Homo sapiens: one gene and its partner. The protein of the gene in region 1 purifies or fractionates together with the protein of each later gene. This does not show direct contact. Each region holds a gene or a part of one and is shown in the gene's direction. Other genes may lie near its edges.

The links. Proteins that work in one complex are often made in the same cells at the same time.
Region 2: the proteins of PHLPP2 (region 1) and MARCHF1 purify together in Homo sapiens (affinity purification with western blotting; one study listed by BioGRID). This does not show direct contact.

Annotation. Positions count from the first base shown.
Region 1 is NC_000016.10:71,672,702-71,676,201, reverse strand, and holds part of PHLPP2 (PH domain leucine-rich repeat-containing protein phosphatase 2), read left to right. Parts: intron 1-3,500. UniProt on the Homo sapiens protein: Protein phosphatase involved in regulation of Akt and PKC signaling.
Region 2 is NC_000004.12:164,374,020-164,377,519, reverse strand, and holds part of MARCHF1 (E3 ubiquitin-protein ligase MARCHF1), read left to right. Parts: intron 1-3,500. UniProt on the Homo sapiens protein: E3 ubiquitin-protein ligase that mediates ubiquitination of TFRC, CD86, FAS and MHC class II proteins, such as HLA-DR alpha and beta, and promotes their subsequent endocytosis and sorting to lysosomes via multivesicular bodies.

The DNA of each region.
Region 1 (3,500 bases):
GTGGTGGGGAGGTGGGCAAGCATGTTCAAAACAGAGCATCAATAATAGTCTAAAACAGGTTGGCAAACTATACCCCAGGACTGCATCTGGCCTGCCACCTCTTTTTTTATGGCCCATACGGAATGGTTTTTACATTTTTCTAATGGTTGGGTAAAAAAAAAAGTCAAAAGGAGAATTTTGTGGCCAATCATGGGGGCTCATGCCTGTAATCCCAGCACTTTGGGAGGCTGAGGTGGGCTGATCACCTGAGCTCAGGAGTTCGAGATTAGCCTGGGCAACATGGTGAAACCCCATTTCTACAAAAAATACAAAAGTTAGCCAGCATGGTGGCAAACCTGTGGTCCCAGCTACTCAGGAGGCTGAGATGGGAGGATCACTTGAGCCTGGAAGGCAGAGGTTACAGTGAGCTGAGACCGTGCCATTGCATGTTCTCATGAGAGAACTGGGTGAGACTTGTGAGACCCCATCTCAAAAAAAGAAAGAAGAATTTTGTGACATGTGAAAATTACTATGAAATTCAAGTTTCTATGTTTCTGAATGAAGTTGTACTGGAATGCAGCCACAGTGGTTTGCTTGCATATTGTTTATACATTCTTGCTCTTGTGCTACAGTGGCAGAATTGAATAGTAGTAAGAGAGACTGTGATATGGTCCGCAAAGCCTAAAATGTTTACTATTTAGCCTTTTACAGAAAAAGTTTGCCAATTCGTGGTTTAAAAGCTTGTGTAGCCTCAGTGCTAGAATGAGAAGCCACTGATTTCAATAGTGATTTGCTCTAAGAATATTTTTCAATGAAAAGGTCCTCATATTTGTCGAGGCCATTCTTTTTATGGAAAGTTCTTTACCTTTGTTTACTTTTGATATGTGTTTAAGGAAGGAAAGGAAAATAGGTTAAATTTTACTGTCAGAAAAATGCAAATGTAAATAATAACATTTTATACTCATCACATTTAAAAAAAGGTAATTCTGAGTGTTTCCAGAGGCGAGGAGAAGCATCTTCCTGAGCACTCACACACTGCCAGTGAGAGGTGACTGGTAAAACCACCCCAGAGAGTAATGTGACAGTGTTAGAGATGTCGAGACACACACATACCATATTCTAGAAGTTTCCTGATTGGGATATATCCCAAAGACACCCACATGTGCACAAGGAGATGTATAACAGATTGTTTATCACTTTTTGTGAGCATGAAAAAGTAGGATTTTGAGACGGAGTCTAGCTCTGTTGCCCAGGCTGGAGTGCAGTTGCCTGGTCTCAGCTCACTGCAACCTCTGCTGCCCAGGTTCAAGCGATTCTCTTCTCTTAGCCTCCTGAGTAGCTGGGATTACAGGAGTGTGCCACCATGCCCATCTAATTTTTGTATTTTTAGTAGAGACATGGTTTCACCATATTGGCCTTGCTGTTCTTGAACTCCTAACCTCTAGTTAGCTGCCCACCTCAGCCTCCCAAAGGGTTGGGATTACAGGTGTGAGCCATTACACCCGGCCTAAAAGTAGGATTATTAATAGGAAAATGGGCAAATCGGTAGTGATATATTCATGCAATAGAATATTGCACAGCAGTGAAAATGAATGTACTAAAGCTTTGCATGGTAATATGGATAAATTGCACACTTTTTTTTGAGCAAGGAAAAGTGCATAATTAAATGTATATTGTGATAGTTATATCAAAATTTAAAACACTCACAGAAATATTGTTTTCTTCGTTATAAATATGCCATAACTATGAAAGAATACATGAGAGTGATGAAAACCATATTCAGGATGATGTTTACTCTTGGTATGTGTGGTATTTTAATTCTTTAAAAAAAAAAAAAAAAGTCTGGGCCTGGCACAGTGGCTCAAGCCCGTAATCCCAACACTTTGGAGGCCTAGGTGGGCAGATCACCTGAGGTCAGGAGTTCAAGACCAGCCTGGCTATTATGGTGAAACCCCATCTCTACTAAAAATACAAAAAATTAGCTGGGCATGGTGGCGCGTGCCTGTAATCCCAGCTATTCGGGAGGCTAAGGCAGGAGAATTGCTTGAACCCCGGAGGTGGAGGTTGCAGTGAGCCAAGGTCATGCCATTACACTCCAGCTTGGGCAACAAGAGCAAAGCTCCATCTCAAAAAAAAAAAAAAAAGTCTGCCACATATAAAGCAGAATGTAGGTTTGTTAAAAGCTATATGATAGGTGAAAGAGGGTTCATTATTTTATGCTCTTTATTTTTCTGTATCTGTAAACTAGATTATACAGATAAAAGTTGAGGACTTCTGTTTGCGTTGCCTTTTATTATGTTATAGAAGCTTCAAATTGTAGCTTAGATTAATTGCTTGGTCAGAAGAGTGTTAAAACTGGTGAGTGTTGACTTATGCTGTTTATAGATGCCTGACATTGTAGTAAGTCCTAGCTGTGGAGATTTTTGTTATCAGGCCCATCCCTATCCTTAATGTGTCTAAACAGTGAATTCCTGGCCCTACTGGAAAAGACCTCATCAACAGGCACACAGTCCTAAATATTTACTCTTTGTAAATATTTAAGTATGTACAGATAAATGAAATATTTTAATAGTATTTAAATACTTAAATACATGAAAAAGTCACCAGGATTCTATCACAGCAGTTAACTGAACAGGGCTTGTTTGAGGTCTGCTACTCCGTTTACAAAATCCTTAAATTCTACAACCTGGAAGAATTCACATAAAAACTTGCAGTTTTGATGCCTCAAAGTCAAGAACTCTGCTTTACAAAAAGAAGTTATCTAAATGTGATCAGTTAATATAGGGAAAGCACTGAACTTGACTAGTCATCAGGGATATGCAAATTGAAACTCCTGCGTGGCACCACTATACACCTACCAGAATGACTAGAATGGAAAGGCCTAAAAATCCCAGGGGCAGCTGTTGGAGTGTAAATTGGTACAACCACTTTGGAAAACTGTTCAGTAGTATCTGCTAAGGTGAACAGAAACATACCCTGTACCCAGCAGTGCCTCTTCTAGGCTTACGTTCAATATAAGGACTTATATTAGTCCACAAAAGACACGGACAAATATGTTCACAGAAGTACTATTCATAGTAACTGCAGACTGGAAAAGACTTAACATGTCATCAACTCTAAAATGGGCAAATAAATTGTGGTATATTCACATAAAATAATTTTTTACAGGCATGAGAATGAATGAGCTATAATCATATGCAACTGTATAAACAAATCCTGTAAGCATATTGTGGAGTGAATGAAGCCAGACAAGTAAATTATACATACTGTGTGCATATATTTATGTAGATAGGCAGAAATAATTATACATACTGCATGCATATGTTTACATAGATAGGCAAAAGTAATTATACATACCGCATGCATATATTTATGTAGACAGGTAAAAGTAATTTGGTACTTGGAGTCAGGACTCCTTGAGGGGAAGTGACTGGAAAGGGAAACATGGGGCAGTTCCCAGGGAGCTGGTAATGTTCTGTTTCTTGATCCGGGTGTTGGTTCCACTAGTGTGTTCAGTTTGT
Region 2 (3,500 bases), on another chromosome or scaffold:
GCTACATTTATGGAGTGAAAAATGTGTGAAGTCTGGAGTCTCCCTCTTCTTAGAAACAACTGTCCTATTTTTCCAACTGTTGGCTCTGAAAAGCAACTGATACAGACTGATTTCTTGTGAAATACATACAATAGTGTTAACAAGCTAGTACTATGTTTATCTCTTTTCTTATTGGTATATGGATAAAACTCAGAACGTATTTCTAGACCAATTCACGGAAATATAGTTAATTCAGGTTATACCTGAAGTAGATTGTTAGAGATATATGATTTAAATTAACTGTGCTTTTATGGATTGACCTAGAATTTTTGTTAAGTCTGCCTGGTGACGGATGGATTGAACTATTACATGTAATGTTATTTTTGAGTGACTTGTATGTTGCAGGTAACATATTCCAGATAACATATTCCAGAAATCACTGACTATTTGGGACACAATGATTGGAAGTCGGAGAATGCCTGGAATAGATTCTTGTGCCTGCCTTCAATTCAGTGTCCTGAGGCACATCAGGAGATAAATGGAAGCTTGGTGAGAGTGATAAATTAGGTACTGACATTGAGGCTCATTGGGGCTGACTGTGGTGAGCAATGATCTGATTCTCATGAAGTATATCACATGCTTTTTGGACCCTGCCGGATGTCCTGTCAATCTCACATCTGTTTCTGGCTCTGGCTCGGGCAATCATTGTAGGCAGCCTTTGACTCAGTTGTGCTATTTCCCATCTCAAGCTTGCGCTGAGTATCTTTCACTTTCTTTTCTGTGACTTTACTAGCATGTCTTATCTTTCCCCCTGCTTCTGACCGTGGTCCATGCAGCCTGGAAGTGAGGAGGAGCTAACACCACCATGGAGCCTCGCAGTCAGTGGGAATGGGTGGATAGTTCCGAGACGCACTCTGCAGCTCCTCATAAGGTCCAAGTGAGAAGGAGCCTCAACCGGCCATGGAAGTGACCCAACTGCATGCACCTGTATTAGCCTTTACTCTCTCCCTGGTTCACTTTACCCGGTGCCTCACTCCTACTCTCCGGGATCACCTTGTATTATTTGCACATAATTTTTTAGTTCAGACTCTGCTTTTGAAGAGAGCCTGGCCTAAGATTTATGACTTTCCTTCTCTAGAGAAAAATGAATAAGAGAAAGAAAAGCAGGACTAAATCATAAGCTACATCCATTACAATGAGAGAAAAAAAGAAAGAAGATAAAACATGTATTTTCAGAGATACTTTCTTTACAAATCTGTCATCTTTCAGATCACCAAGTGAGACCATTTAAATAATTTTTCTAGTAACTGTGAGGTCATCTGTTGACATAATGATTAATTTGCATCTCTTCCTTCTTTTTTACTATACTTTAATATGTAGTTATTGGCAGTCTACTCTATGCTCAACACTCAGCTAGGTCCTGGTAATGTAATGATGAGTGAAAGATGTGGCATGATTCCTGCCTCTTTGGAGCTTTTTATTTCTGTGAAATTAATTAAATAATCACACAAGCCAGTGCACATACGCAAAAGTGAGTATAATGAAGGCCAGATGCACAGTAATGGGGAAGCCTATTAGAGGGGAGTTTGACTCAGCCAGGGAGGTCTGGGGAAGCCTCCTTGAGGAGGTGACATTTTACCTGACATCTGAAGGAAGGGTTAATGAGGTGGAGAAAAAAGATAAAAATTTTCTAACAGAGGGAGAAATGAAGTGTGCTCAAGGTCCTACTGTTGGGGGAAGTTTGAAAGACTCACAGTCAGAGGGAGTGTGATGTAGGCTGAAGAGAGGTACTAAACATAAGGGACTGTCACAAAATATTTGCCATAGTAAGGAATTAATTGTACATGTGTGTGTGCATGTGTATGTGCATGTAGTAGGGGAGCAGTAAAAAGGTGCTAACAAATACAGACCATCTATTTGCAAAAAAGAAATGTATGAATCTGGGAAGAATGTTGTATCGAATATGCAGCCTAGCAAATATTAAGAGTTATGAACATTTGAATCAAATAAAAGTTGTAGGAGTTATCATTTAAAGTTAGAGAACTTCTAAAGAAATAGAGTTGAAAGAAAGGAGAATGAACTATTTATTTATTTATTACTCAATGTATTTGTTCCAGCTCATGGTGATGATACCTTAAGGACTACCTACAAGGCTTTTAAGTTCCATATAACTAAGTAGTTTTTACATAGTTATAAAATTTATATATTTTTGCTAGTTATCTATTAATTTTTAGAGTGGTAGAATTATGGGTAGATATTTTCTTTTAAAAGTACAACATTTCAATTAAAATTTTACTTGATTTATTTTAATAGTGTAACACACAAAGGTCTATTAGATGTTACTGAAGCATAGCACATAGCCACATTTAATTATTCATTCTGGAATCAGCTTTTGTATTTAGGTTTTAATGAAGTTAAATTGCCTCTATACTCACATGAGTTTGGATTTTGGTTCTGCTAAATTCTCCCAAATTTGAAATTCGATCAATTAGAGACAAATTATTTTCCACTTAGAGCTATATTTCCTTTAACATTTCTTAGCAATTTTGTTTTCATGGAACCCAAAGTCAGGTCCCAGGCACCCTGTGAAATGACCCTTTAATATTTAGCATAATATATACAATAAGTTCTTGCCAGCTCTCTTTCCTTTTTAATAAGATAACTTGGTTTATTTATAGCTTATGTTTAAACTTAATCTTTTATGAAATCTTTTAACCTCATGAGTATGTCTTATTTTAGAAACCTTTACTAAATAAATGGATAAACAAGTATTTATTAAGTAACTACTACATGAAAGAAAGATTCTGTGCCATTAACAATAGCAGAGAATTAAAGAGATGGGGGAATCAATTTGACGCATTATTAAGATATTAAGTGACAAGTATAATATAGAAGGAAAAGTCTGATACTTTTTGGTTTGTTCCTTATGACATTCATGGTAGAGAAGATGAGTCTTAAGAAGTGATAATAGATGCTATTTCTATAGCTTTTGTTATGAGGATAAGCCATAGTTGTCAATTTTCAAAAATTGTTAAAAATGAGGCAGAAGGCTTTAATTTTTTGAAACATACATTACCCAGTAATGTCAAAAATAAAGGAAATGTTTATTTTACAAATAGGAAGTATTTTCAACTGTTAATAGTTGTCATAGGACTATCGTTAGCTTTTTGTCCCACTTTTTAAATTTCCCAAATACTTTTAGTAATAATAAGACTGAATTATTATCATAATAACAATTTAAATTAATAATTATTGGATTAAAAGATGAATATTAAAGCAAAACTTAAAAAAATGTTGACGTCTGTTAAATCTAATTAGTTTTCTTGTGGATTTTAAAAATACTTTTCTGAGTGTATAATTGTAATAAATTATATGTAGAGGAAAAAATGATGCGAAAATAATCCTCTGTTTCATGCTAATTTCTATTCTGTGGCAACACATCTAATGTGAACATTTATTTGAAAAATTTCCCTCAAAACAGTGTAAGAGAGAACTTATGCTGATAAATTGTTTTAAAGAAA